4 separate regions of the Homo sapiens genome follow, and regions 1, 2 and 3 are each linked to region 4. The links come from fine-mapping of genetic effects on gene expression. A gene starts in region 4. Each other region holds a variant in brackets. All regions are shown on one strand. Distances are between the middles of the regions.

Region 1 (8,108 bases), 29 kb before region 4:
TTTCTCAGCCAGCCGACACTTATGGAAAATAGAAAGAACCTACGTTGAAATATTGGGGGTGGGTTCCCCCGATAGGCGCCTGTAATCCCAGCTACTGGGGAGGCTGAGGTGGGAGAATCGCTTGAACCCGGGAGGCAGATGTTGCAGTGAACCAAGAACGTGTCACTGCACTCCAGCCTGGGTGACAAGAGTGAAACTCCATCTAAAAAAAAAAAAAATGCCGTTGATGAAAAAAGTTAAAAATGAGAATGGATTACATTTATGAAGATTCAAAATAGATGCATATAAAATAATATGCATTGTGACAGAACACATACAAAGAAAGAGAGGGACATAAGCAAAGCAGCATCTTTCAGGCCTCCCTCCCTCCCTCCCATACTCCCTACACATCTATACTTTCCATGCCAACAATACTGAACTGTTTGTTGTTCCACAAACTCAGCATGTCTTTTCTCCACCATCTCCCTCTGTATGCACTGTTCCTTCCTCCAACCTTCCCATCTAATTCAATGAGGGATGGGCACACTGAATCTTTCTTATTGGGGAATCATCTGAGCTCACAGCTTGTTATTTGGAACAGAATAGTTGCTCAGTAAATATGGCTGACTTTAAACTCAGCTTGGACATCCTCTGCAGGCCTCTCTTGCACCACAAACCCCTTCCATTCTCCCTCAATCTTTTTGTGAAAATAGCTACAGATTGTTAGAAGATTGTACCTTCTAAAATCGCAGCATTATGCTACTAATCTGGAAGGCATACACTTGGAGGCCAACATTCTGGGAGCTCAAGTTGGGAAGAAGACTAAAGTGTAAAGTTTCCATAAGTTGACTTTCATTTAATCCCCCAACCATTTTCTATAAAGTACCCCTTCTTCCAACTGTGCCTGGTGTCCACCAGTCCAGAGCTCTTCTGATTCACTGCCTTCTGAGAGTAAACCTCCAGCTACATGCCAGGGCAAAGGAGAAGACATCACCTGATGTAGTGGGTAGGGTGGACCTAGAAGTTCTCTTGCTCTTTATACAGATTCTCAGTCACTCCTCCTTTTAGGCCCAATTTTACCTCATTCAGAAGTTCCAGAATCCAGAACTTTTCTGGGGCTCTGGTGTGCAAATCCCCTCGCTCTCCAGCTTCTGCTGCTTACAGCTCAGAATTCCCAGGTCTACAGAAGCCAGTTGGAACAGTTGCCTATCTGCTTTCTTATTTTCAATATTCTTATCATCCCTTCTACCCTTCTTTTTGTCCTTGAGGGTTTATGCTGCACACTATGCCAAAAGTTTAGCTGCTAGCATTGTGTTGTTATTTAAGAAGGTGCAAGGATAAATGAATTTGTTTAATATATCATCTTTAACCAAAAGCTGCCTATTTTCAGACATTTAAAAATTGTTAAAAATGTCTTCCTTTGAGGGAGGGAAAATTGGCAGGTTGAAAAGATCTACCTCCTATTCTTGTTTTGACACACAGATTTCTGATGTTAGAGAACACCTTGATGTTCCCCTCACACTTTGATTCCCTTTCTTCTCCAGGCTGTAGACAAGCTCCCCTCCAGTACTTATTAAAATTATTGTATTTGTAACCAATGGAAAATATACCTGGAAAACATGTGAAAAGTGGGGTTGGAATGAGGATGGAAGGTGGTGGGTGCACTGGAAGAACACAGAGAGCTCAGTTACCTTCTCCTAGGTCAGTGGTTCTCAAGGCTCACTCCCTAGATAAGCAGCATCAGCATTACCTGGGAACTTATTGAAATGAAACTTCTCAAGCTCCACCCTAGACCTGCTGCGTCAGACACACTGGTGATGGGATCCAGAACTCTATTGTAACAAGGAGATTCTGATGCACACTCCTGTTTGAGAACAACTGCCTTAGAATCAACTGTGGCCATGGGCACAAGGACAACGAGGAAATCTGGCCACTGCGTTACAGGGGCCATTACATGAGAAGAAACAACTATAAACTGGAGAGCCAATGAGTTGATATGAATTACACTTCTATCCCCTAGTGATTAATGTTATTCCTGTGGAAGAAACAGCTAACTTCAGAGTGGTCTTTGTTAAAAAATGATTACTTTCCATTTCTATTTTAATCTTAGGGTTTTACTTGCTTTCTCTACATCCTGTATATGAGTGTCTGTGCTAAGAGAGTGAAACCAGATCTAGAATATCGTCACCATTTGGTACCCTTGGTGCTACTCATAATTACAGGCTTGACAACAGCTTTGCACTGCAGGTGTTGCTGATGGCCTTCCAAAGAGCTTTGGAAGTTAATGCTTTAGAGTTAATCTCAGGAGTTAATGCTTTAGGGTCTTTTAACCAAGAGGTAATCTACGATAAAGATAGTCAATCGCCCACCCTTGGTTTGATTTCTTCCAACCTTAGGAAATACAGAGGGGAATGCACCCCAAAGCAAAGTTTCAACATTGATACTTAAGCTACTGTGATTCAGAAAAGTTTTCAAAAAGTTTCAACAGAAATGTTGAAAAGTCAGTAATAGTACATAACCCATTTTTTTCCACAGAGACACGTTCTCTCAACCCCATCCAACTTTCCCAGAGTGCCTCTAAGACTCTAATAAACTAAAGATCCCGTACCTTGAAATGAAAATCATGGTTTCAATTTTAGGGTCTATCATGTGCCTAGCAACATACAAAGCTTTTATGTGTATTATTCACAATTTGCCTAAACTTTATGTTTCTGTGTTTTATCCTCCTTTTAAATACGAAGTGAGGACTCAGGTTAAACAGCTTGACCAAGGCCACACAACTAGTAAATCAGGATTAAACCCATATCTATCTGCCTGTAACATCCGTGCTCTTAACTACCCACCACACTGTCTTAGCATAGAATTGCCTCCTCTATGAAGACTTTCCACCACCCCAAATCCAAGTCAGTCACTTATTATTCTCTGCTGCTATTTGTTTACTTGTCTGTCTCTCCTGCAAGACTATGAGCTCTGGGAAAGCAAGGTTGGCTTGATTTCTTGCCTTGCTAGCACCTAGGAAAGGGCCAAACACAAAGGATATATTGAGTAGTTGTTTATTAAATCAAACAGTAATGAAAGGGGGGCAGATAAATGAATGGATGAATAGATGGGTTTCAAAGAGAAGTTACAGCAGCAAATACATAACTCTAGCACCCATAGATCAAGTATTAATTAGGGGAAAACCAAAAATATTTATCTGCAAACAATGGCACCTACATCCACTGTCTCTTACCTTTGCCATGTCTTTCATATCTCTGCCAATTTTGTATGTTTGCTACCTCCCCTTTTTTCCTTCCCTTCCTTTTCCCTCTCTCCCTTCCCTTTAAATACCTGTAATATAGAACTGAAATCATACGTGTAATATTTTCGTTTGTTGTAATTTATGATTCAGATATAAATAATGTTTCCTCATTCTTAATTTCAAAATCCAGTGCATGGAACATTTTTGTAATGTCTAAAAATAAGATCCAAAACACAAACACCCACAATTGTCTCTCCTGATTTAACAACATACAGTAAATTGATATTTTTTCTTTTTTCTTTGGTGAGTCAGTGACCGCCAAAAGAAAAAAAAAATTATCCAATCTTGTTCAATGATAGGAAGTAAGAAGATTTCAGCACCTACTAAGTGCCAGTTGTGTGTGTGTGTCTGTGTGTGTGTGTGTGTGTGTGTGTGTGTGTGTGTCGTCCATCTTCTTATTTGCATTTATAGGGAGACAACTAAGGCTCAGAGGTTATGTAACTGTCCCACTGTTACCCAGGAAGGAAGAGGAGAAAGTAGGATTCAAACTCAGGATCCATGATTAGTTCTCTCGCATGAAATTAAAGACATCATATGGTAGAACAAACAAAGAGAAAATTTGCCTAGTTGAAAACAAAAACCTAGGATTAAGGAACGCTTTTTCAAGGAGAGCACCAAGGTTACTAGAACACCGTTTTGTAATCATGGGTGTAGAGCTTGCATGCTGACATTTCCTATGATTCAGCTCTGCCGTCCTACTCGGCTCTTTACGAAATTAAACCACATTTTAGAAAAGGAAACAATATCAGACTGATAATAATTTCTGTTTAAAATCAGATAATTTAAAACAAAGGTGAAAACCAGTGGAATGACATAGATTTTTATCTCACCTGCTAGTCACAGAAATGTTGAGTGTGAAAAACTTTGAATTCCAAATTCCAAAAATAAAACTTTCTTTGCTGGCTCTGGAGGTTTCTCATATTGTTTCACAACCTACATGCCCACGCCCCCACTCTCATGGCATCTGCTTCCTCTTCCTCCCCCAGCCCATGCCATGAACCCGAAGGCATGCGACAGGGAGGGGGTCTAGGG[C/G]AGAGAAGAGCCCAGGAGCCCTTCCCTGCAAGGGCACTTCTGAAAATCCCCAAACACCACTTCACCAAAATTCTCTCAGGCTGCTCTGGGCTGAGCAAGAGTGGAAGAAACCAGGCAGGATGTCAGCCGTGCTTATGTTCTCAGAATTGCTACTTGGCCACAGTTTTCTCTGGCTTGAACCATAGCAGTGGGCAGAATGGAAAGTGTATGAAAAGAAAGTGCAACTGATGGTCTTGGAGAAGTCCTCAGAGTGAAAGCAGGAGGCGCCTGTGGGAGACTTCAGCCCTCGCTAAAGCCAAATGGGCCTAGCCAAGCTGCCTGGCCCAAGGTACCAGTTCCTACCCTCCTGTCCAGATTTTAGGGCATTCTTGGAGCATCAGTATTCTCCCCTCATACCTCATTAGCTTTCGATTGCATTTTGCACCTTCATTCTTAAGAAGTCATTTGCCTTGTTAAATGTGAGTATTCCCCAAGGCCAGTGCTAAGTCTCTGTTCTTCTGGCTGCATCTCAACAAAGTTGTAGAGTCAGAACACTATTGTGGTTGAACATGAGGCATGAGTTTAGCCAGATCTGACTTCCAGTGTGGGCCCTGCCAATTATCAGTTTTATGACCTTAAGCAAGTAATCATCTTTCTTCATGTCATTCTCTTCTTGAATTACTCTGCGAGAACAACTCTCTAACCTGTTTTCATTTCCCACCTCTAATATAGCCAACTGCCTGCTAAACATTTCCACTTGGACGTTCCTTTATTGCCTCAAGTATGACAAATGAAAACCATTATCTATTCTTCCCCATCCCCCCAAAATCTTTCATATTCTTTCTTTCTGCTAAGACAACCATCATGTTTTGTTCTATTTTGCTTTTGAGATGGGGTTTCACTCTGCTGTCCAGGCTGGAGTGCAGTGGTGTGATCACTGCTCACTGCAGCCTCCACCTCCCCAGGCTCAAGTGACTTTGCCACCTCAGCCTCCCAAGTAGCTGGGACTGCAGGCACCTGCCACCATGTCCTTAACCAGTATTTTTTGTAGAGATAGGATTTCACCATGTTGCCCAGGCTGGTCTCTAACTCCTGGGCTCAGGCAATCTGCCCACCTTGGCCTCCCAAAGAGCTGGGAGTACAGGTGTCAGCCACCATGCCTGGATGGAAGCGTTTTTGAGAATCACCTTTAACCTCCTATATTAAATCAGAACCAAAGTCCTATTGATTTTTCTTCTCTAAACTTTCTGCAGTCCCACTCTTCCTTTCTCAAAAGCTCTCGTCGGTTCATAGCATCTTATTTCCTACATGTGTACCCTTTTCAAACTAGCCTTCATACCACAACCAGAAAAGTTATTTCTGAAATTGCTTTGATCAAAATACCCTACCATCACCACCTCTCCCACCACTGAAAAAATACTAACAAGCTCCCAACCAGGAAAAAATTCACTCTCCTTGCCCTGAGTACTCAAGGCTCTTCATAAAACAGGATCAGTGTCTCCCAGCATCGTCTCCTTGGGCTCCCACCTGAGGCCTCTTCCTCAAACCATTTCACTCAATATGTAGTCCCTCATTTGTCAAATATGTGTAGAATACCCACTTGGAGCCAGGTGTGATGGATACAGTGGGTGAATAAACAGACACAGCCTCTTCCTAGCAGGAAAGCAGACAGGCTTTAGACCACTAAACACATACATAGGCTGGGTGTGGTTGCTCATGCCTGTAATCCCAGCATTCTGGGAGGCCAAGGCAGGCCAGATTACTTGAGGTTAGGAGTTCGAGACAGCCTGGCCAACATGGCAAAGTCCCGTTTCTACTAAAAATACAAAAATTATTCAGGTGTGGTGGTGGGTGCCTGTAGTCTCAGCTACTTGGGAGGTTAAGGCATGAGAACTGCTTGAACCTGGGAACTGGATGTTGCAGTGAGCCAAGATTGCACTACCGCACTCCAGCCAGGGTGACAGAGTGAGACTTCATTTCAAAAAAAAGAAAAAACACATACATAGAGACAAATTGTGAACTTTGGTTAAACACAACAGATAGGTCATAAGCAGTTATATCTTTTTCTTCTCCCAATAAAATGAACCAAAAATTATTTTAAGGTATAAATGAACAACAAATTTTAATCAAATTTTGAAAGACAGGGAATAGATACATGAGTAATAATCAACTTTGTTGAAAAGTTGAGAAAACTTCAACTTAACAAGCCTGGAGAGGAGAATGTTGAACATAATCATTCTCATGAACCCTACACATACCTGCAAAGTGTGGCTCTTAGAGACCTGATGCCCACAGAGGCAAGGAGCAAGATATGAGGCCGCACATTTGAATGCAGGAAGAGTTAAATTGGTAGATTCCCTCCCTTGGCCCCACAGAGCCTGATGGCAACCCCACAGACAGAAGATAGGAAAGCTAGCATCTGGAGAAATCTTTTGAAGAAATTCCAGACTCACGTACATCAGACACAGACTGGGACACAAGTGAGACATGAGATTGAAAATGATCACGCCAGGGTACATGATCATGCATTTCAGAACTCCAGGGATAAAGACATGTTCCTAAAACCTCTCAGACAAAGGGTTGAGGGCAAGGAGAGAAGAAGATCAAGATCATATACAAACAGGAATCAGAATGGCAATCAGTCATCTGCCAGAAATGCTAGAAGTCAGAAAATAACTGAAGAAAGCCTTCAAAATTCTGACAAAATATTTTATCTGGAATACATTACTTAGCTAAGCTATCAAAAGACATAAGAGGAACATATAGACATTTCCAGACATAGAAAGACTCGGAAAATTTACCTCCCTTTTACACCCTCTTTTTTAGGAGGTTACTTGAGAATATCCTCCAGCTAAACCAAGGAATGAAACAAGAAAGAGGAAGTGCGGAGGTCCAAAAAACAAGGGGTCTAAAACAGGAAAACAGTGGGGGGAAGTTCCAGGATGCCAGCAGGGTAGGACACAAAGAGAACCAGCAGTACAGATAGCAACGCAGGCAAGGGGGCTCTAGGACAGGGCTTTGGGAAAGTAAAGCATTACAAAAAAATAATATCTGGTCTATTTTATCATTTTGATTAGGAGTTGACAAACTGCAGTCCGTGGACCAAATCCTGCCTACCACCTGCTTTTGTAAATAAAGGTTTTTTGGAACATGGCCAGCTGCCCCCCTTCATTTACATATTGTCTGCAGCTCAGTTGCATATTGCCCATGACTTTAACAGCTGAGTTGAGTAGTTGCAACAGAGGCTGTCTGGACCAAAAAGTCTAAAAATATTTACTATATGATCTTTTATAGAAAGAGTTTGCCAACGCCTGATTTAAAAGGAAAAACTAATTAGTGATCTGATGGAATGGGTGAAAAAAAGATAAAAATAAATGTAGAACAAACAACACCAACTGGAGGTAAACAGGCAATTTTAGGAAGAATAAAGTTGGACAAGAAAATATATGATCCTAGTATACTACTTGGACTCTGCAAATAATTTTTGTATAATCATAAAAACATAAACAATGATTTGGATTTATCCAAAAATTGTGAAATGAATATTAAAGCAAGAGGAGAAATGAAGAGATGTATAGAAGATCTAAATTTTCCTTTTATAGCAGAAAATCAGTAGAAGTCTAATATTAATAAATCAATATATAACAATATAAGCATATTTGCTAGAAATACTGAGGCATGTATTAGAAGAGACAGCTAGCACAGTTCCAAGTGATTTCTCTGGAGAGCAGGACCAAGTGAGGTAGAGATTCATAGGCAGAGCACTGCTGTTTTCATTATAAACCTTCAGCATGTTTTTTAACTTGATAAAGTGGCA
Region 2 (8,108 bases), 53 kb before region 4:
CTGGCCACCTGTAGTTGATATAAAGAATAGAGTAGAAAATCTACTACTTAATGTTGTGCTACTCCACTGTGGCGAATATACAAATCCCAAATGTCAGATAGATAGGGTAAGGCAGTATGGAATTTACACAGTTGGGTGTGAATTCTTGCTCTGCTATTGATGAGCTCTGTGACCTAGGTCACATTCATGGAGCTTGTAAATGGCTACAATCACATAGACCTTCACTTGTGTTTCTCTGAGTATTAGTAAATGAGATAACATCTAGTAAACGAGATAATATTTACTAGAAAATGGTGTGCACCCAATAAATAAATAATGGATGGAAGCATGAGATGTGCTTATCTGTCTATCTGCTGCTCCTCATTCCTTTAATTCCTTGACTCCACCCTGGAAAATTCAATTTGAGTTTTACACGCTAGGCATGAAATGTTAATAAGAGATGGTGGGCAGCTGTGGCAGGCATTCCTAAACATTCCTCCTAGGTATTGCACTCAGCCCTGGGGGAACCAGGCTGTAAGCTAGGGGCCTGTAGCCAGGTCTCTGGTGCCATGCCAGGGCAGGGTGCCCCAAGATAAGGTGGAGATCCCCAAATACCTACACCTCTGCCTCAAGCACTCCATAGAGCTTAACAGCCCCAGCATTTAAATTGGATGTGGGCTGTTTATCATAATCTATGTTAATATCAGAGAGGTGCTTGAAAAATTGAGAGGTATTCCCATAAAGCCATGCATTTGAACTACTTCCTAAGCATGTATATATGGATCATCTCTTTTGGTCTTTGTAACAAACTCATGGGGTTCACTGAGCAGGTACAAGTCTCTTACCTTTGCAGGTGAAGAAACTGCAGTCAAAAGGTGATGCATTTTGCTCATGGTCACAAAATTAGCATGTGGTAGTGTCAAGGTGAAACCCAGAGGGTTCATCACTAAACTGACCTATTGTATCAAGGACTTACTCAGCTTAGACATCCATCGATGCCTGTGAGCATACAACTGCACGACTAATTTTGCTGCCTGGACATCGTTTCCTGTCATATACACCTTAGCTTATCCATCCCATCTCACTGCTGAGTGTATTTCTTAGTAACCATGAGATTATTAAAGAAAACATAAGTTTAAAAGGACAGGTAATTATAATCTTTTCCTTTCACACTTCAAATTAACACTTGGTACAAATGATACACTCCCAACTCTGTAGCGGAGTTTGCTACCAGTCTCCCGAGCCGTGTAGAAAAAAGGAAGATCCCAAGGACTCAGCCTTCCACCTCTTTGGCACTTCCTCAAAGCCAATATACTGGACCTCCCGATATATTCCAAGATAGGATTATATTAACATATTATTTCATCTAAGATTAGAAGAGTAATTATTAACAGGAAGACGTGTTCATTAAGAAAAAATTTTAAATATGGAAAAATATAAAAATGAAATCACCCATAATTCCACCTTATGTGTATGTGTGTATATATCTATGTTTATATATGTATGTATGTGTGTATTTGCGTGGGTGTGTTTCTGTGCTTTTCTTCTTCCTGTGCTTATGAAGCTTGTGGTCCTAACCCTCTTCCACACATGCTCACACTCCGTGGGCAGGAGGAACACAAATCCTCATGCGGCTTCCTTTCTACTTATGGAGTGCAGTGTGGGGACACCATGCCTAGGAATCTTATGTGGCCTTAGATGCAGAAAAGTGGCTGTTTCAAAATTTCTTCCTGGTTTTTGTGGGCATCATGGGTTGAGGGCTTTATAATTGTGTTCCCTTCTTTAAAAGTGGAAAGGCTGTTGGGCGCGGTAGCTCACGCCTGCAATCCCAGCACTTTGGGAAGTGGAGGCAGGCAGATCTCAAGGTCAGAAGTTCAAGACCAGCCTGGCTAGCATGGTGAAACCCTGTCTCTACTAAAAATACAAAATTTAGCTGGGCTTGGTGGCGGGCGCCTGTAATCCCAGTTACTTGGGAGGCTGAGGCAGGAGAATTGCTTGAACCCGGGAGGCGGAGGTTGCAGTGAGCCGAGATCATGCCATTGCACTCCAGCCTGAGTGACAAGAGCAAGACTCCATCTCAAAAAAAAAAATAAATAAATAAATAAATAAAGGGGAAAGGCTCTGGGGGACTGCCAATTCCCCAGATAGACCACTGTTTATCAGCAAAGACCAGTTTTTACTGACCAAATATGGGAGAGTACTGCCTTGAACAAGTTTTAGTTTGTCTTAGAAAGAGGAGGTCCAGGGTTTGGGGGTCTGGATTCCAGTGTTGCAGGCAGGTTTTGTCATCTGATATCTTAGGATTGGTGGACACTGAGAGGCTAGAGGCTTGGAGGTAGTCTTCCTAAGTAAATGGATGTTTGATAAAGCAAGAGGGTTTTTCCAGCTGGGCAACCTGTTGTCTTAAGAGAGATGATGTCTACCCAGATGAGCATCCAATTGGCCTGGGCAGAATAAATGGGTTTTCATGAAGTGCCTGAGGTTAACAATGAAGTTATTTACTGGTTTACAGCTTTATCTTCCTGGGCAAGAATTTTCTGGAACAAATGGTAAAGTCATATTGGACCTTGGTTCCTAGTCCCTGATCACCAAATTTAAACAACCACCAAACTCAGTAGCAGCGTGGAGGAGTGACTGAGCCCCAAGAAAACATTTGGCAATGTCTGGGGACATTTTTGGTTATCTTCACCGGGAAAAGGTGCTTCTGACATCTAATTCACATAGCTTAGGAGTGCTGTTCAACATCTTACATAGCACAGGACAGACCACCACCCCTGCAACATAGAATTATCCAGGCTAAAATATCAAAAAAATCAAGGTAAGAGACTCTGACCTGTAAGAAAATGAAGTTTCACTCCGAGGACATTTGAAGAGGGAAAGGAGAAACAGGGACCAGAGGGCAAGAAATAAAGTTAGGAACCATGAGGGGACCCCCTGGGAAGGGGCCAACTTAAAAAGAAGTCTGGGACCGACCATATGACTGAGTACATCATATTATTAGTGATGTTTTATGGTCAATACTGTAGTAAAGCATTTGCCTACATCATTAAATATTTTTTGAAAACATGGCTTTTAATGGTTTAATAATATCTTCATGTATGCCTGTACCATAACTTTTTAACTAAGTCCTTATTTTTTGCAGGCAGAGTGTTTCTGATTTTCTGATGTTGTCAGCCGTAGAGCAATGAACACTTATCAATACATCTTTGTGAACATCAGGTTGTTTCCTTAAATTCTTAGACATAAAATCGTTACATGAAAGGACATATATGTTTTCTATCTTTTGATATATGTTGCCAAATCCGTTTTCAGAAAGACTCCCCAATATACATTTCCAACAGAATTGATAGAGGGTCCTTGGGATTTTTTTTTCAATGTTTATGCTAAGGGACCAGTCACTACCATAAAAGATTTTTCTACCTGATCCTTCCCACTCTTTCTTCCAAAGAATGCATCAATTCAGAAATATTGTGCTACTATGGCTGCCTCAGCCTTCCAGATTCCAATTCTCCCTTTTATGGAATTATTAAGAGTAGTTGAAAGTTGAGAAAGCAATTACCTCCCTAATGATATCCTAGAAATCTGAACCTTTTAGTATAACGTCAAATGATTCCATTTGAAAAGAGGGAAGAGGAATTGATAAGCACCTAACATACCACCCCACCTTTCAAAATGGAAAAAGTAAGATCTAAAGAGAAGATGCTGCTAGTTTCACAGAACCAGGGGAAAGTTGAACCTAAAATCCAAATTCTTTATTCTTTATCCAGTGCTATTTCTGCTGAGTCCAGCTTCCAAAAAATACAGATAAAAAATACTTTAACATGTGACATTTTCATAGATAAAGAAAATTGGGCTCAGAAGAGTTAGGCAGCTTACTTCTGATGACAGAGCTGGTAAGTGGCAGAGCTGGACTCCAACAGCTTCTATCCAATTTGACTAGTTGGATAGATGATCTGACTTGACTAGCTGGATCTGATGATCCAGAAAGCGAATAGTCCATAGTTAACTTATTCATAGAAAAGCCTCAGGTGAAAAGATGATGCTCTCTTTCATATTAATGAATATTATAATATGGAGTTAAATCTAAATTAATTAACTAGTGGATTCCCTTTATAATAGAAAAATTTATGGTGTACACTGTGTTGCTATCATTCTAGCCAACACAGTCTACAAATTTACTGTCTTACAGGGTGGTCACTAGACATGTGGAGTTACTGAACACTGAAAATGCAGCTAGTTCAAGTTGAGATGTGCTGTAATGTACACTACAAAATAAACTTCAAGGACTCAGTATGAAAAAATAAATGTAAAATAACTTGTTAATAGTGTTTACATGATTAGATGAAATAAAATTAATTGTTAAAATTCATTTTAGCTGCTCCTTTTTCCTTTATTTACTGTGGCTACTAGAATTTTTTTTTTTAATTTCTGTGTGGCTTATATTATGTTTCTATTGGACAGCACTGGTCTAAACTACTTGCTAATTCTGTGATCAAGTCATCTCAACCATCATCCAGCAGAAAGGGCCCTAAAGATGGAGAGTAATTTGATATCTGATCATCAAAACTGTTGACAACACCTAGAATCTTAAACTGTTAGTTCTGGAAGGAACCTGTGGCAGAAACTTCTAATTGTTCTACAATACCCATTATCCTCTTCTCTCGGAATCACGGAACCCCAGTTTTTAGCTGGCAACGTATATCAGCTAAGAATATAGACTCTATTTCTGTATTTCCTAATCTACCTTGCAGATTGGGTGAGCCCATGTGACAAACTTAAGGCCAAGGGAATGTGAGCTGAAGTACTATGTGCAGCTTCCAGGTTACATATTTAATCATTAGATATTTTGCTTGGCTTTGTATGTTTTCCTGCTTTAGGAAAAATATAAAGGATCCTGGACCCTGGAGGATTTCTTGGAGTAGAGACACCTATAGCCTATCTTGAGACCTCTACATGAGGAAGAAGGACGTTTCCATCTTC[C/G]TTTAATACAACTAATTTAGTCTTAATTAATACAGATCCTGGAGGTCGTTTTTGTTCAACACTCCAACATTACAGGATAATTATATATCAGAGAGGACTACAATTACCTAAATTCACACAGCAACTTAGCATGAGCTGGGTCTTGAACCTAAAGCTTCTTATTATTTATCCTTCCCTACCATGCATTGCACTCAGCTATCTTATCCAATTTACAGTCTATAAAAATACATTCCAGAAGATGTGATGCATAAATGAACTATTATCCTTTGGATCTTAGAGATAAGAATTTCAGTTTGCTCATATATTTTTGTTTTGAACTGCATCCTTAAAACAATGATTTGTGTAAACTACCCATGATGCAATATTAGCTTACTTAAGCGAGAGACACACAGTCATAAAATAAACTTATTCATGACATCTCGCTGGAGGCACTAAAACAATAAAATGTAATCCTGATGTCACTTGCTACCTCCCTGCCCTTTAAAATCCAGATAAGGCTGGCTCAAACGATCAACTCCATGCTTCATGGAAGACCAAAGCCTGCAGATTTCTGGGAAAGAAAAAGGGGAGACGGGAGCATGGGGGATTTGTATTCTGATGTCTCCAAATCTAGGTTTCTGATTCTGCAAATGCTGTTTTGTCCACATGGCTACAATCCAGACGAGAAACCCCGCCTTTCTTCAATTTCTACACACCCATACACTCATCTTGCACAAAGAGCTAATAAGTATAGTGCACTTACTTGAAGATTTATTTAGTAGCTAGAAAAAGGATTATTATATCACAACAACTTCAAATTGGACATTAGGCATCCCCCTTGTGAAGCCCTCCTTTGGCCACTGTCTTAGTTTGGGCTGCCATAGCAAATTACTATAGACTGGATGGCATAAACAGCAAACACTCATTTTCTTACAGTTATGGAAGCTAGGAAGTCCAAAATCAAGGTACCAGCAAAGCTGGTATCTGATGAGGACACTCTTCCTGGTTTGCAGACAGCTACTTTCTCATTGTATCTTCACATGCAGAGACAGACAGAGATCTTGTGTTCCCTCCTTATTTTATAAGGGCACTCATCCCATCATAAGGGCCCCATCTTCATGACCTCATCTAACCTTCTCTACCCCTCAAAGGTCCCGCCACCAAATACCATCACATTGGGAATTAGTATTTCAATATGTGAATTTGAGGTGGACACAAATATTCAATCCATAACAACCACCTTATCATAAGGCAATTCCATAAGATGCTCTTCCCAGGGTCACTACTAGGCCATAGGGACACCTCCTTCAAGTGCAGACCCAGAAAATACGACTTAGGGATCAGGACACTGGTTTAATTGCAAACCCAGCCAGCTGCCTCAGCCAACCAGTTGAGCAAAGGCAACTTGCACAACAATGCATATTGTTGTAAAGCTCTACCTCTGTTTACCCTGTGGAGTCCTCAGCCATAGACCATCTTTCTAGTCCCTCCTTCTCTCATCCCCTTGTAAACCACTGACCTCTCCTATTCCCCATATATCTCTTAACTCCTCTTATATTCTCAGGTTGGACAGCTTAGCTATAGCTTTCCTTTTGCTTGAACTCCTGACAACCCCTTTGGGGTCTTACCTGCTACTCAGAGAGGCTTCACATATGATCTTTCAAATAAGAAGGACTCCTTCTACTACATCCTAATGTCAGTAGATGTTAGTGCCCCCTCCCCAAATTCATATGTTGAACCCAAATCTGCAGTGTGATAGTATTTGCATGTAGGGCCTTTAGAAGGTGATTATTAGATCGTTAGGGTAGAACCCTCATGCATGAGAGTAGTGTCCTTATAAAAGAGACCCCAGTGAACTCCCTTGCTACATCCACCATGTGAGGATGCAGTGAGAAGACAGCAGTCCATGAATGAGGAAGCAGGCCCTCACCAGACACCAAATCTTCCAGCAACTTGATCCTGGGCTTCTTAGCCTCCAAAACTGTGAGAAATCACTGTTCGTTGTTTATGAGCTACCAGTCTGTGATATTCTGTGACAACAGCCCAAGCAGACTTAGATACACTTCACAGATGAATTCTGGTATAAGCTGTCAAGATATTAAAAAGTTCTCTAACTTAGAAAGCAAAAATATATAGTACCTCCAGGCTCTGTCTTTCGCAGAGGGAAATACACAAATATACCTCCTGAAAAGCTAAGTCTGGGACATTTCCCAGAGGGTGGGTGAGATCACAAAGTCCAGACAAATGCCCTGTTATGTGGTTGTTTCTCTTCAGTCTATACCCATCAAAGGGCTTACTGGCCTCTGTTTGATGGACAGTCATTATCTCCCAAGGCAATTGCTGTATCTTCTATCATTGGACCTAGTTCCATCACAAGATGGATACTTTCTATAGAATATGTCCATAGCATAGGTCCAAATGTTTTAACATGGAATTCAAGACTCTTTACACTTTGGAGACCACCAAATCTCCAGCCTTGTTTGCATCTTCTGCCCTTTGTAACCTCCTTTTCATGCCTCTCACTTTTGTATACGTTGCTGTTTCTGCCCTGCCTAGAATTCTTTGTCACCTTTCTAAAACTAGAAAAATTCTGTTATACCATAAAATGTACTGCAACTTCCCCAGGCAGAGTAGTTCACTTGCCCCTTTGTTTTCCTAGAGCTCCTCCTCCAAATCTTCATTATAGCCCACACTAGACCACATTGGAATGCTTCCTTAAATCCTCTGTTGCAGAAGAACTGCATCACCTATTTCTCCAGCTCTCAGAACACAGCCTAAAATACAGTGCCTAAGATACACTGGTTTGGATTGTTACACAACGACTGTATCCCCTCTTCTCCAAGACAGTCCTCAAACACACAAAAACAATGACCTTGCCCATCTGTAGTCATCTCTTCTCTGGCCAGCCCTTAGTACCTTCCACTGGTCTTTATGTAGCATGGACTCCATCCTTGTCTTCTTTACCTGGATATGTTTCTATTTCCTAACTCACTCGGATAAGTGGGATTCAATGTCATGTTCCAGAGAGAGCTCTGCAGAGCCCCAAGGACCATACCTCAAAGAGATAAATTATTGTGCTTAACTAATTGTTCAAGATTTCATTCCCCTACTGGAGCAGAGACAGGGTAGCTCAGATCAGGACGAGCTAGACCTCTAGACCTACCTCCACA
Region 3 (8,108 bases), 48 kb after region 4:
AAATTGCATGTCATGAGGGTTTGGTGCAAAGATCGTTTTATCACCCAGGTACTAGGCAAAGGTAGTTTTTAGATCCTCACTCTCCTCCCACCCTCCACCTTCAAGTAGGCCCCAGTGCCCATTGTTCCCTTTTTTTGTGTCAATGTGGACTCAATGTTTAGCTCCTACTTATAAGTAAAAATTTGTGGTATTTCGTTTTCTGTTCCTGTGTTATTTGCTTAATTCTATTTCTTATACTATCAACAAACAACTAGAAAATAAAATTTAGAAAAATAAACCATTTACAATAGCACTCAAAAATATCACATACCTAGGAATATATCTGATGAAAAATGTAAAACCCTCTACACTGAAAATTATACAATATTGCTGAGAGAAAGTAGAGACCTAGTGGAGAGAGATGGCACACACATGAGTTGGAAGATTAAATATAAAATAATGTAAATCCTCCCCAAATTGATCCATGGAATCAATGTTATCACAGTTAAAATCACTACAGGTTTTTTTGTATGGAAAATGACAAAATGTTTGTAAAATCTATTTGGAAATACAAAGAACCTAGGATAGCCAAAATAGGTTTGAAGAAAATGAGCAAATTGCAAGTCTTACTGTTATAGTAGGTAGCTCATCAGGCATAAGCAGGGTAGAAGAGGGCTCTCTCCGACTTCACACTCCCCCCCCACCTCCTGTCACACACATCAGGAATGTCAGGTGACAATCAGGTAATGGTCAGTAATGGTCAGGCCGTTGTTAACTGTCTCTCTAAAATAATAATTGGTCACAGCCAGTGCCAGGGAAAGGCCATCTCCTGCTACATAGAAAACACCTGAAACTAGTGATCAGCAGCTTCCTGGAGTTGGGAAAGTGGACTCAAGCATGTGCATGCAGACAGCCCAACCCAAGGGAAGAATCAAAGGAGAAGTGACGCAAGACCCCGGAAGTATGCCAACATATAAAGCCAAAGTTAAACATAAAACCAAAGTATGCCAAAGTAAAACAACGTCAAAAAGTCAAACCGCACACTTGTCTTTCAAGTCGCCCGCTTGGTCCTCTTCCAAGTGTACTGTCTTTCCTTCCTTTCATTCCTGCTCTAAAGTTTCTTAATAAACTTTTACTCTTGCTCTAAAACTTTCCTCAGTCTCTCCTGCCTTGTGCTCCTCTGTTGAATTCTTTCTTCTGAGGAGGCAAGAATTGAGGATTCTATAGACCTACATGGGTTCACTGCCAGTAACATTACTATCAGATGTCAACTTAACTATATAGCAAAGGTAATCAAAATACTGTGGGTGTTAGCATAAGAATAGAAAATATAGTCAATGGAATAAATCAACACAGGTATTATCATCTGAATTGTGACAAAAGTCTCAGTGTAGAAACAATGCCCTTTTTAATAAATGCTGTTGGAATAATTATATCTGTAAAACAAATCAACTTTGACTCCCCCACCTTACACCATACATAAAAATTAATTTGAGATAGATTACAGATATAAATGTAAACAGCATGACAATAAAGCTTCTGAGATAAAGTATAGGAGAGTACTTTCATAATATTGAAATAGATAAAATATTTTATACAGAATATGAAAGACACAAACCATAAAAGTAATGAAATGCTATTCACTACAATTAAGACCTTCTGCTCATCAAAGGACACCATTATGAAAGTGAGTAGAAAAGCCACAGATTGGAAAAAACTTTGCTCTGTGACAAAGGAGTCATATTCACAATATTATGTATAAAAATTCCTATAAATCAATTAAAAAGACAAATCAACCTAATTTTAAAATGAGCAAAACAATTGAATAGGACTTCAAAAAACACACTATCCATATGTCCAGTAGCTAATGATTCCCTGATGGTATCATTAGTCATCAGGGAAATGCAAATTAAAGCCATATAACCACCAAATTAAAACTACTACACACCCACCAAGTTACTAAAATTGAGATGACTGACAATATCAAGTGTTGGTGAGGAAGTGAAGCAACTGGAAACCTCATATATTGCTGGAGGAAGTGAAAGTGTTACAATCATTTTGGAAACCTGTTTGGCAATACCTACTAAAGCTAAACATATGCTTGCCTTATGATCCAACCATGCTACTCCGAGGCATATTTGTAGAAGTGAGGTCATATGTCAACAAAAAAGATGGGTAGAATAATATTTGTAGCTTCTGAGCAAAACAACTGTCTCTGAATATTACCTTACTTTGGAAGGTATTGGCATACATTTGAATTAAAGTCAGAATTTTTCAAAATAAGCCCTAATTTAAAAGACTATTCTATATTCAAAGTAAAACAATATTAATAGAACTTTCCTTTGCAAAAACAATAAAGGAAACAAGGCATTTTGTAAAATGTGGTCCTGAACAAGTCACAGTAAAAAATAAATGTATACTTAACTTCCACCTCTTCAAAACAGAGGCTACTTTCTGTTCCTCAGCCTTGGAAACAAGGTGAAGAACAGCCTGTATGCAACTTCAGACAGGGGGTTACCAAAACAAAGCTGAAGCAGTTGACCATGGACACCTCAAAAGAATTTCGGAGAACCTGACCGAAGGATCCAAATTCTATGTTTTTTGTTTTTGTTTCTGTTTTTGTTTTTTTGAGACGGAGTCTCATCCTGCTGCCCAGGCTGGGGTGCAGTGGCGTGATCTGGGCTCATTGCAACCTCTGCCTCCCGGGGTTCAAGCTATTCTCCTGCCTCAGCCTCGCAAGTAGCTGGGATTACAGGCACGTGCCACCAGGCCCGGCTAATTTTGTTGTATTTTTAGTAGAGATGGGGTTTCACCATATTGGCCAGGGTGGTCTCAAACTCCTGACCTCAAGTGATCCGCCCGCGTCAGACTCCCAAAGTGCTGGGATTACACGTTTGAGCCACCGTGCCAGGCCTAAATTCTATTTTTAATAACTAATACGAAAGTGAAGTGGCTCCTCCCAAGTAGCAGTGCTGCCGGGGCCTGGCCCAGGCCTAGCCCTGAGCTCGACTCTCATGCTCCCAAGCAAACCCTGATGCTCCTGCTCCAAGGTAGACCTTTTCCCTTTAGAGGTTCAGTGTCCAGGGAGCTCTATGATTGTGTGAATGAGGTGAGCGCCAACTCCATGTGAGTATTTTAAGGCTTGGAGTCAAAGTATTTTCCTAACACTCCTAGGCAGAGTCCATGGCCCATCTCCAGTTTGT[T/C]CTAATTTCTTACCATGCATCTGTAGCTCTAGGACCGCAGACCTTCATCACAATCGTATCCAATGTCCATCGTAAATTTTTTTTTTTTTTTTTTTTTTGAGACAGAGTCTTGCTCTGTCGCCCAGGCTGGAGTGCAGTGGCACCATCTCGGCTTACTGCAAGCTCCATCTCCCAGGTTCATGCCATTCTCCTGCCTCAGCCTCCTGGGTAGCTGGGACTACAGGTGCCCGCCACCATGCCTGGCTAATTTTTTCATATTTTTAATAGAGATGAGGTTTCACCATGTTAGCCAGGATGGTCTCGATCTCCTGACCTCGTGATACGCCCGCCTTGGCCTCCCAAAGTGCTGGGATTACAGGAGTGAGCCACCGTGCCCGGCCCACCCAAACTTATGATTCATATTCTGTACCTGGAAACAGTCCCTGTATTTAACAATAGCACCTACACATGAAAACAATCCACTGTTACAGCTTATATAGTCACAAAACATTAATGATCTTCTGTAGAACAAGCAAATTTTTTTACCATAATTGTCGTGCATCAAATTCTTGGCTGTCTAGCATTTCTTGGTAAAAAGACATAATTCTAAAACCATTCCTCCATTGATAGACAAGCAGGCTATTCTCAATTTTTTGCTATTTCGACAGTACTACAATCAGCATTCCCCAAAATATAACTTTATGCACCTAAAATACAATGAGAATTTTTTGTAGATTAGATTTCTCAAAGTGGAATTCAGTGTCAGTGGATATGGGCATTTGAAATTGTAACAGATGTCACAAATTATTCTCCACAATTTTGAAACAATTCAGTACCCATCCAGTAGTATATAGTGGAATCCATTTCCCACACCTTCACCAGCAATGGATGCTACCAATCTTTATTACTTTTGCTAATCTAAAGGGAGAAATGGTGTTTTATTGACATTTTATATGGCCTTTTTAAGATAACATAATAATACATTTATGCTGATAATTGCCAACACTAATATGAACTAGACTCTACTAATAATGTCACATTAATTAAATATGTTTAAACACAAGATACTGACCATGCCATAGAGAAAAATTCTGCTTTGAAAAGGGGTTGGAACTGGTTACATTTTGCACAGGAATTCATTTGCCCTAGGAGTACCTGCCCTGTCCACAACCCTTGCTGAGGGAAATAGTTCTGGGTAACTTCCTAAGCATAGAAAGCCACACTCTATATTCACATCATCACGGCCTGACTTTTAGAGAATTTGACCAGAAACAGATTACTCCTAACCAATCCTACAGAATGGCCAGTTACCCATGAGTTAGTCTAGTTTGTAAGCTTGGTTCTACAGTGAAAACATTGAGTAAGGGGACTCACATCTTCATGGTGCTTTGTAACATTCTCTAACCTAACTCTAACCTAACCCAACTCCTGCCCCACAAATCCTCTCACTGTAACCCTCTGGATGCCTGCTCTGGGATCAGCAAACACCCTAAATTTCCACCCTTTTCTTAGTAAGTTCTTTTTACATATTTTGCCTTAGTTGAAATCTGGCTGTTCTCTGAGACAGCATTTCTCCTGTAGCCCTCTCAAAAGGAAGGTTGTTTGTTTTCTCATAACTCACAACCTCATAGTCTTGAGATGGGGTAGCTGTCTGTGCTCTGCATTTCTTCTTCCGTATATACTATCTCTCCCCCTTGCTCTTATAAAACACTCAAGCTCTTGCAAACTCACAGCCTCTCATTGTTGCTATAAACTACTGACATCCCGACCACAACCCCTAATCCTGACAACCTGAACTCTTGGCTCAGTTTTCTGTCCACCCCAACTCCTGTCATTATCATCACTGGTCTCAACATCCAGCACCCTGGTGTTGCCATTCCCATTCCACCTTTTCCTCCACTCTATCTCATCTGCCCACTCCGACAGTCACAGCTTGAATCTTCTCATCAGCAGAAACAATATCACCTGTGAAATGTCAGCTTAAACATCCCACTCCCTGACCACCACCTTCCATCAGTCCAGATCACATGCTGCAGAACAGCCCCACCACTCCCACCACAAATCTTTGACGTCATCCTCCTGTCCCCACAATTTTCTCATGGCTCTCCTGACTTCTCTTCCCTCTTGTTCATCCTAGATTTCATGAATAATCATTTCAGTTACTTCCTGGCAAATCCTACCAACTCATTCACTCATATCCTCCTTCATCATACTTTCCTGCAAACACCAGACATCTTCCTCCTTGAGGCTGACCCCAAGCAGCTGTATGTTGCTAGAGGAAACAATTGCACAACTGAGATGATGGGTTTCTTGTTAATGTGGTGATCCCAAGAATTAGTAGGGCTTTACCACTGCACAGAGAGCTGATCATCTTTCTCTGACAGGATCACCTTCCCACTCCCCAAGGTGAATAACTTCTCTCTCCCACATCTCCTCCTACATATATCATTTCTTTCCTCATACTTAAGAAAAAAACAGAATTCACCAGAAGCAAACTCTGAGCTTCTCACCACCCATGCTCAAGCTTACAATATCTGTACTCACCTTCTCTTCTTTTTAACCTGTTATGGTGGAGGATGTGTCCCCAGGCCTAATGAAGGCCAACTCTCCTCTTGGGCACTGAATTCCATCCCATGAATTCATCCCTGCCTTCTAAAAGACTGTACCTCCTTAGTTATGTTCTCTCCTGGAATAGAGTCAGTCCTTCCTTTCTCCCTACAAAACCACTCCCATCAGCAAGCAAACATGCTCTACTGCCTACCTTTTTGAAAAGGCAAATCTTCACCCCTCCAGTTTCTGTACCATCTCTCTATCCCTTACTCACAGCCAAACTCACCAAGAAATATATCTACACAATATGTGTAAATTCTCACTTCACCTTATTCCTCTTTTACTTACTATGTTATTCTAGAAAATTAAAAAATAGAGAAGGAATTGGATATTTACCTGTGTATTTTTTGATAAATTTTAAAAAGACACACACAAAATGCACAACAGAGGTTGCCACTATGGTGGGCGCAGCAGAATAAAACTAGAAGCATAACACAGAAGAGAACTTCAGCATCATCCTTTTATTCTCAATGATGCTCTCTGCTCTGCCTTCCACCTCCACACCCAGTGGAAACTGATCTTGTTACAATCATCCATCAACAAACCTCATGTTTTCAAATCCAATGGACATCACTTGGTCTTTGTTTTACTCAGCCTCCCAGTGTCTGTCACAGTGCCTAGCACATGCTTTTCTCTGGGCTTGCATATACCACCTCGCTAGGACACCTTTCTTAGTTACCTGGCCATTTCCTCCTCATCTACCTGAACTTAGCGTTCTTGGGAGGATTTTTTCTTCCATTATCTCTTCTATGATCATGGCTTCCAGTGCCATCTATCGGCTGTAACTGCTGCATTAGTCCATTATCACACTGCTAATAAAGACATATCTGTGACTGGGTAATTTATAAAGGACAGACATTTGATTGACTTGCAGTTCAGCATGGCTGGGGAGGCCTCAGGAAACTTACAACTATGGTGGAAGGGAAAGCAAACACATCTTTCTTCACATGGCAGCGGGAAGAGAAGAATGAGCAAAAGGGGGGAAAGCCCCTTATAAAACCACCAAGTCTGGTGAGAATTAACACACTATCATGAGAACAGCAGTGTGGGGGTAAACACCCCCATGATTCAATTAGCTCCCACCAGGTCCCTCCCATGACATATAGGGACTATGGGAACTACAATTCAAGATGAGATTTGGCAAGGGACACATAGCCTAACCATATCAACTGCCAAACTTACATCTCCAGTCCAGATAACTCCTCTGAGCTCCAATCTTCCTAATTCAACTATTTAACACTTTCTGGCAGGGTACAGTGGCTTGTGCCTGTAATCCCAGCACTTTGGGAGGCTGAGGTGGGAGGACCACTTGAGGTGAGGAGTTCGAGACCAGCCTAGCCAACATAGTGAAACCCTGTCTCTACCAAAAATACAAAGCCAACATAGTGAAACCCTGTCTCTACCAAAAATACAAAAATTAACCAGGTATGTTGGTGTGCACCTGTAGTCCCAGTTACTCAGGAGGAAAAGTCATGAGGATTGCTTGAACCCAGCGGGCAGAGGTTGCAGTGAGCCAAGTTTGCAGCGCTGCACTCCAGCCTGGGCAACAGAGCAAGACTCTGTCAAAAAAAAACTATTTAACATTTTTTTCTGATATTGCCAATTTTAAATGCCCAAAACTCATTATTTTAACATCTTCCCCCACTTACCTCGGTTCTTCTGGGTTTCTGCAGTAACTTTTATCACCATCGATTCAGTTGATCAAACCAGAAATCTCCCTTTCACTAATATCCAGCATCTAGGCAACCAGTAAGTGGCTTGTACTACCTAATATGCTGTCTCATTTTTCCTCTCTTGAATCATCTCTACTGCTAACACTGTAATCCACACCATCATTCTCACCTGTATTGCTGGAATAGGCTCCCACCTGTTCTTATCTCTTTCTTGCTGCCTCCTCCCTCACCCCTGGTGTATTTTTGACACACCAAGAAGAATCATCTTAAAATAAAAAATTGGATTATGTTGGTTTATTGGTTGGTCTTGCTTTCTCTTCCTCTCTCTCTCTCCTCCTCTCTTCTCTATTCTCTCTTACATACTCTAGGACCCACAACTCTCTCACTATATCTGGAATCCCCAGAACCTAGCTCAACATTGACACTTAAGAGGAGGACTTTAAATATTAGTTAAATGAATCATTGAAGTGGACAAATTAGGGTATCCTACGATCATTTAAAATCCAGAAACAAAGGGCTAAGAAATCAGTAAGAGAGCCAGAAACCAATGCACATGAGTAAAGAAAGCTAAAATAACAGCCAAGGAGGAGTAGACAATATGAAAAATAGAGAAAATTATTAGAATTGAAAAGTGTTTGACTTAGTATCTGAGCCTTAAAGAGAA
Region 4 (8,108 bases):
GAAGGGAGAGGAAGAACAGGAGCAGTGGAAAGCCAAGTAAAACACGAGAGGAAGCCTGGATGCACCTGGAATATTAGCAGAGCCGACATGAGAATGAGCAGAGAGGGCCGGGCAAGCAGAGGGGGTTGGGTGCGGTAGCTCATGCCTGTAATCCCAGCACTTTGGGAGGCCGAGACAGGCAGATTACGAGGTCAGGAGTTCAAGACCAGCCTGGCCAACATGGTGAAACCCTATCTCTACAAAAGATTAAAAAAAAAAAAAAATAGCCAGGCCTAGGGGTGTGTGCCTGTAATCCCAGCAACTCAGGAGGCTGAGGCAGGAGAATCACTTGAACCTAGGAGGCAGAGGTTGCAGTGAGCCGAGATTGCGCCATTACACTCCAACCTGGGTGACAGGGCGAGACTCAGTCAAAAAAAAAAAAAAAAAAAAAAAAGGAGAGAGAATGAGCAGAAGGGACTCTTACACCTGTCTCTCTCCCTGATGGTATGTACTTCCTTTAGTTGTTCCCATTTCTGTGTCCCAGTTTCCTCCTTTTGTGGAATGAAGGATTCAAGCCAAATTTTCTGAAGTTTCTAAATTTTATTCACCTTGGAGAGACCCCATGCCAGAAAAGGGCAAATGAGCAGGTGAAGCTTAGCCCTTCTCTTTGTCCCACCTGTGCTTCAGCCAAAGCAGCCCTGTTTTCTTATGTTTTTATATTCCTTATACAGCTTTGCTTCCAGAAAGGATTTAAAACTTACTCAACAAGAAATTCTATAAAGGCTCCTTCCATCTGCACATCGTACAGCTTGAGTAGAAGACAGAAAGAAGCCAGTTAGCACAGGTCATGGATTTCTATGTTGGCCAGGCTAGATTCTAGAACAGCTGGAAAGCAGAGAGGGGCTTAGAGCAATGGGGGTGGGAAATAGGGAGCCACTGAAGGTTTGTGAGTAGAGGAGTGTCACAGCAAAAGAATGAATTGAGCCCACAAACTACTGTACTAGGAACTGATCCGAAAATCTCAACTGCTCAGAAAGTTGAGTAAAAACAAAGGGTGATTTTTCCCCCTTGTCAGCCTTCCCTCCCAGGACATTGTATTGTATGCAAAACGGGTAACTGTAAGACAAACATTTTTTTCCACTGCCCTTCTCAGCCCCACAGGCCTTCAGGAAGACCCGAACTTCAAGCAAAGCCTTTTTATTTTTCAACACCCACAGCTTCCATTCAACAATCAGAAGTTTTCCACTTTGATCAAAGAGGCTGAACAAGAGGGCCAAGGGAGCAGCTGGTTCTCAGCAACTCTGGGCAGACCACAGAGCCCTTGCTACCCACTCACTGTCCGTGCCCACCAGAGGACACAGCCTTCTCCCCAAATCAGCCAGGTACATGCCCCAGAAAACACTGGCTTGCCTCGTTCCCACCTTAATTACCGGACCAAACGAACGTGAACACACTGTTTTCAAAACCAAACTCAATTGGGATCACGGGGGCCTCGGTTTCCTTGATTGTAAAATGGGTATATCGCCCCCCACTCTATTTAGCCCAAGAAAACAATTTATCTCTTGATGTCTCTTTCGTCTCCAGGATCTATGCTTTTACAGACTCACTGGGAGGAAATATCCAGACCAAATCCTAAAGCCTGATCTAATTTGGGAGATGCTCAGAAGTTTTGGTTCTATGCAAGAACAGCAGTGGTAATAATCCAAGCTTGGCTTTAGACACAGGACGTTTCCTTAGGGGCATCTGGGATCTCTGCTGGCTCAAAGTGATGCGCTGCAGACAAAAAGTGAGCAGAAAGGAAAGGAGGTGCTATGCAGAATGAGCTTCTTCCACGGTGATACCAAATGGAGCTTTCAAAGGCCCACATCTGGAGGCAGCAGCTATGCAGTGATTAACATTTTAAACGGTATTTTGAAATGGAGATCATTAGTAACCACAGATGTGATCTGACTCTGTCCCCCAGGTAATCTGTCTATTGTATCTAAATTCCAGACTTAGCCCAGTAGACAGCTTGGGATGTTTAACAGGAATTGTCCAACACCATCCCCAAATCTATTTTTATTCATGGAGTACTCTGACATCATCTCGCTTGGTCTTCCTGATGACTGTAATGCAGATTGGGAACAGAGAAAGCCATAAAGACTTGTATGATGGCCCAAGGCTAAGAAGGGAAAGGGCTGAGACCACACTTCAGGTTTTAGCTTTCAGGTGCAGTGAAGATTGAATGACTTAGCACGAGCTTTCAGCCAGGCAGGCTGCAAAGTGCACCCAAGTTCTTTCAGTGATCGACACTTGCGACTTAGGTTGAGATAGTTTTCATCCTCCCTGAGCCTCAGTTTTCCCATCTGTAAAAAATAAACATTGCCTGCCTCGGAGGGTGGAGGTGGAAGTGGAATGAAGCCACATGTAACTCCTAGCGCTGTGCCTGAGACAGTAGAGGTTCAATTATAGTAGTCACATACACACACAACACATACATACACAAGACACAACACACCACACACAACACATACATACACACCACACACAACACTTACATACGCACCACACTCGGCATGCATTGCAGATCACAAATGCACACCACACACACACTGCATACATATACCATAGAGAACACACAACACCTACACATACCCCCATACCACAAATACACACACACTACATAGTACACCACGCAGAACACACACAGCCCCCATATTCCACACCACACCATCTCACTGCCAATTCCTTCCCCTCTTCATGAGTTTTACGGCAGGTCCAGGTTCATCTGCCAGTTTAACAGATCCCAAAACTTCTGCAGGAGTGTTTGTTCAAAAGATTGATATTTCCAGATTCCTGCTTTCTGACAGTATCTTTGAACCCCAAATTTCATACTGCCATGAGCCAGTCCCCCTTTGGAGAAATATCTCCATTTGTGTGCCCTTTTTCCCCCAGGGAACCTGCAGCATGTCCCTTTTTCAGCAGTAGCCTATCAAACCGAACCCTTTGGAGTTATTACACTGCAGTCCGAGGGATCCGGCCTCCCTGAGACCCAGCAAGGACTCATTATCTGGGGAGGTCTTCTGAGCCACAGGCCTCGCTGAAAGAAGGTGCAGCTTCTTGAACAGGAAGGCGTTTTGTGGCAGAGTCTAAACGAAACAGAAGTTGCTTTGTGTGTGCGCACGCATGCACACACACACACACACACACACACATACACACACACAGTCGGGGAACCGTCATTTTCCTACGCGCCCTCTGACATCAGCCACCTTCTCTGTAGCTAGTTTCTCTGCACACAACTTAATCCCTGGCAATGAAAAATGAACCTCTCCCCCACCCTTGCTGCCGCCTCTCGCCTCACGCCCCCAGAGAAGAGTTTCTCCACCAGGCAGCAGGTGAAGGTTTTTTTCCAAGTCACATGATTCAGGATTCAGGGGGAGAATCCTTCTTGGAACAGAGATGGGCCCAGAACTGAATCAGATGAAGAGAGATAAGGTGTGATGTGGGGAAGACTATATAAAGAATGGACCCAGGGCTGCAGCAAGCACTCAACGGAATGGCCCCTCCTGGAGACACAGCCATGCATGTGCCGGCGGGCTCCGTGGCCAGCCACCTGGGGACCACGAGCCGCAGCTATTTCTATTTGACCACAGCCACTCTGGCTCTGTGCCTTGTCTTCACGGTGGCCACTATTATGGTGTTGGTCGTTCAGAGGACGGTAAGTGGACTCCTCTTCCTCCCTTTCCTTTTCTTGTTGTTTTCCCGAGAGAAAGAGCCCTGGGAACAAATGATATTCGTTTGTTGGTTAAGAGCACAAAATAAAATTAAATAAATAAACTCTCTCTCTCTATATATATATATATACTATAGTATATACTGTATAACGTAATACACTTATGTTACATAATATATATTATATTATACAGTATATATTATATATATATATATATATGAGAAAGGGAGAAAAGAAAGAGGAACTTAACTCTCTAAAATAATTTGGCTTGTTGAGAAAAATATTGTTAGACCATCATCTTAAAACTTTGCAGATCTGTCTGAGCAAAACAGTGGAGGGGAGCTATTGGCCTTTTAAAGTTAAGATTTAAATCTTAATGAGCCAGAGACCCATATCAAGGAAGGAAGCAATAGAGAAACCTGATAACACATTTGCACAAGTTGTTATCATGTCTTCAAGGACTTCAGACTGGATTCTGAGGTTCTATATCCTAAGTCTGAGTGTCCTGGAGGTTTCTGAGGCCTCACCCATTGCCAAGAGTTTTGTTTTTGCTTTTGTTTTATACAAGGAGCTAAGTTTCAGAGGCCAAGGTCTAGAAGGAAAGGAGGCGAAAGAGAAGACCATGGCTTCTTAGAGCTTTGGACATTTTGGTGTTAAAGCCAGCAAGACAAATCGAAAGCTTCCTCTTAAGCCACAACTTTGAAGAAGTTAGGGCGTCACAAAAAAAAAAAAAAAAGAAACAGCACATAGAAGCAGAAAGTTGAAAGGTTTTTAGCACCTGTTCTCTCTGATGTTCCTCACAATACTAAGCAATCGTTGGGTACACACTGTACAGGGTCAGACTGTCTTCGGAGATTTACTTTGAAGTAAATGGTAAGATTTGTTTCTGAAAACAGAAGAGGAGGAGAAAGAGGAAGCTTCTTCATATTTTAGAAAATTGGTGTTTACAGAGAATCTACCAGTATATATTATATAGAAAATGCTGTAGTAATAGCATATATTGCTCATGAATTTTTTGATGAAGTTGTTAATGGGTAATTTAAGAGCTGCACCCACCCACATGACCTGCCAAAGTGAGAATATTTCTGTTTCTTACTTCATAGTGCCTACTTTTCGTGGTATTATAATCCTGCTGAATTTATTCTGGTTTTTCTTCAGTTTTCTTAGGCCAAGTACTCTATAGCTTATCAATTGCTGGAAAGAACTAGGCTTTAAAAGGCTTTGATATCTATTTCTCAAGTGTCATCAAGCTTTGAAATTAAATGGAAGCTTTGAAGCTCATATCTCTACAAAAGTGAAAAGAAGGAGTTGCAAATATTTGATTTAGATAGTGGAATTCTTAAAACTCATAATTTAATGGCTTATCTACATCTATTAAGTATAATAATCTTGAAAACACTTTAGGACATCTTTTCTTCTGCAGGGGCTCTGCAATTTCTGTAATTCTAATTTGGAGTGAACCAAGGGTATGTCATTTTATAGCAATGGCCAAAGAAAAGAAATTGAAGTGTCCTTTAAGAAGTTCTTTAGTTAAAGGATCCAACTAGAACTGCTGAGAGAGAGAGAGAGATGGTGGAAAAATGGGTGGCGATGGTGATATATAAAGCTAGAGAGAACTTCAGAGCTCATTCATATCCAACTTTTAGTTGAATTGATTTCTTCTATAAAAGAACCAGAGCAGATCTTTCTGCCTCATTTTTGTAAATGTGGAAAATGAGGAGCAGAGAGGGAACAGGGCTTGAACTACGTCACCCTGAGAAAGTGGTAGAGCCAATACTGCTTGATTGCTTGATGCAAGCAGCATCCCCTTTGCCAATACAGACAGCCACAGAAGCACTAAGAAACATTGCACCCACTCTTCTCTTGGGAGCTTTATCTTCTTGTGCATCCACTTCCTTGACTTACCCCTCATGTTTGGATATGAAAAGATTCACTGTGCAATCTGATTGTACAGTGCGGTGTGCTGTGATTTCTTAGACCAGGAAATATCAGTTGCTTCCTTAAAATTAAGGCTTGCCATGTTAATAGTAGCCGTGGTATATAAAGTGTCAAATGCATTGCACATATCATTTTCAATAAATTCCTCAGACCTTAACTGTTGTAAGACCTAACAAGAAAAAAAAAAGCATCATTTTCCCATTAACTTGAGTTATCAGGAAGGGTTTCCTATAGGAAGATGGAATGTAGACTGACTTGAAAACAGGAAGAACTCAGACAAGTGAAGAGACTCTAAAAGAAACTCTAGGAAAGAAATCAATGGGAGAAAGCCAAGGAGCTTAGACTCACATCACCATTATTAAAAATGGAATGAGTTAATGGTCAATTAGCACTCTGTATGTGATGGGAACAGGGGTGGAGAACCATAAGAATGGTTTTACTGGCACAAGAAGTCACACAATTCTTATCCCAAGGCACGTGTATAGACAAAATTTAAAACAGCTAAGTCATAACATATAATGAGTGATTAAAGGGATACCATGACACCACAAGTTAAGGAGAGAATATATTTTTCCAGACAGGTTTAAGAAAAACTCCTGGGGATTAGTTTCAGGTTGGCTTGAGAAATGTGAACAATTTCAAACAGGCAGGGAAGGGAAAGCAGAGGAGAGGCACTCCTAGCCAATGGAACAGCATGAGCAAAGAGACAGAGGAGAGAAGACAGAGAAAGTGTAGGGAAATCAACAAAGCTTGCCTTGAGGTTTGACTTGAAGATCAGATAACTCCAAGCTTAAACTCCTTGGGAGAGACAAAGGAGGAACTTAGGTTTCTATCTCAAATATTTATTAAATATCTACTGTGTGCAGGACATTGTTCTAAAGCCTTGAAAAAAAACAACAAAATCCCTGTCTTTGAGTTACTATGGAACTTACTTCTTTCCTGTGATATTTTTGAAGCCTCAGTGGTGGTTGTATTTTGTTTTATTTACATTTAAGCCAGCATATTTATAAAATAAATACTATTTTATATAATAATATTACTTTATATTATAAAATAAACATTTTATATTATAAATATATTATAAAATAAACATTTTATATTATAAATATATTATAAAATAAACATTTTATGTTATAAATATATTATAAAATAAACATTTTATATTATAAATATTATATTATAAAATAATATTTTATGTTATTTAATATTTTATAATATATTGATATATTTTATAATATTTATATTAGGAAATACTATACTTACATGGTTTAAGAAAAGTAACTAGCAAATAAGAGAAAAGAAAGTAAAAATCTTCACACCTTCCCCACCCAACCACTAATCCCTCTTCACGGAGATAACCACCATTGACAGATTCTTGTGTGTCCTTCCAAAAATCTGTGCATCTACAAATACACAGTACACATTATAATATATAATAAACCCATGGGTCATTATAATAAACCCATAATTTTGCATCTTGCTTTATTCACTTGACAACACACTGTATATCTTAGAGATCCTTCCATGTCAGTACATAGAAGTTCATTTCATTCTTTTGAAGAGTCGCATAGTACGAAGTGTAAATGCTTCATAATTTATCTGTGCCTGGTGAGAGACATCAATGTTTTCTCTAGAATTTGTGCCCTCTGTGCGTGTCTGCAAGTATATCTGGGGAATAAATTTTTAGTGATAGGAATGGAATGTGCATTTTCTTTTTTTCTTTTTTTGGAGACAGTCTCGCTCTGTCGCCCAGGCTGGAGTGCAGTGGCGCGATCTCTGCTCACTGCAAGCTCCGCCTCCCGGATTCCCCCCATTCTCCTGCCTCAGTCTCCCGAGTAGCTGGAACTACAGGTGCCCGCCACCACGCCTGGCTAATTTTTTTGTATTTTTAGTAGAGACGGGGTTTCACCGTGTTAGCCAGGAGGAATGTGCATTTTCGCTTCAATAAATGTCAGTCTGTCTCCAAAGAGATTGTACTAGTGTACCCCTGAGGAATTAAAAGTCCTACCAACAGACACTTCTTTACATCAATATGGAAAGAAAAAAATGATTTACTGTTGAGCAAGCACAATTGTACATGCAAATAGGCAGCCTGCAACAGACTACAAAGTCAGGATGAAATTTCACACAATTAATCTAGCAAAGCAAAAGAAGAAAAAATAAAACTTCTCTTATCTCCTCAAGAGACAGGGGAATACATAATGAGATAGACAATGAGATAGACTCCTAGGTTAACACCACAGGTAGGTGTTTACATTTCAAAAAGCCTCTGAAGCCCTCAACCTTAGAGACGTCTTTGTTTTGTAAACCAGGAGACTGGGCTTCTCTAGCCCCAGGGGAGAATGTAAAGGGTTACATTCCAAAAGGTTGGAGTATAGGGTTCACAATCGGTAGGCTTTCAAGAAAGAAGCTGCCTCTTTTCCCTTTATAAGCAAAAAAAATTCTTTTTTTAAAAATAATAATAATAATACTCTTT

The links.
Region 1: its variant is fine-mapped to the expression of TNFSF8 in whole blood (TOPMed, PIP 0.97).
Region 2: its variant is fine-mapped to the expression of TNFSF8 in whole blood (TOPMed, PIP above 0.99).
Region 3: its variant is fine-mapped to the expression of TNFSF8 in whole blood (INTERVAL, PIP above 0.99).

Annotation. Positions count from the first base shown.
Region 1 is chr9:114,954,522-114,962,629 of GRCh38, reverse strand. No RefSeq gene overlaps it. Among named protein-coding and RNA genes, the nearest start is that of TNFSF8, 28 kb to the right of the region's middle. The variant C/G (reference allele first, on the strand shown) is at 4,313.
Region 2 is chr9:114,978,534-114,986,641 of GRCh38, reverse strand. No RefSeq gene overlaps it. Among named protein-coding and RNA genes, the nearest start is that of TNFSF8, 52 kb to the right of the region's middle. The variant C/G (reference allele first, on the strand shown) is at 4,960.
Region 3 is chr9:114,877,810-114,885,917 of GRCh38, reverse strand. No RefSeq gene overlaps it. Among named protein-coding and RNA genes, the nearest start is that of TNFSF8, 49 kb to the left of the region's middle. RefSeq lists a silencer at 5,295-5,589. The variant T/C (reference allele first, on the strand shown) is at 3,183.
Region 4 is chr9:114,925,680-114,933,787 of GRCh38, reverse strand. It overlaps TNFSF8 (TNF superfamily member 8), which reads left to right and starts at 3,197. Exons shown (of 4, transcript NM_001244.4): 1 at 3,197-3,679. The coding sequence starts at 3,485. RefSeq lists an enhancer at 3,544-4,103.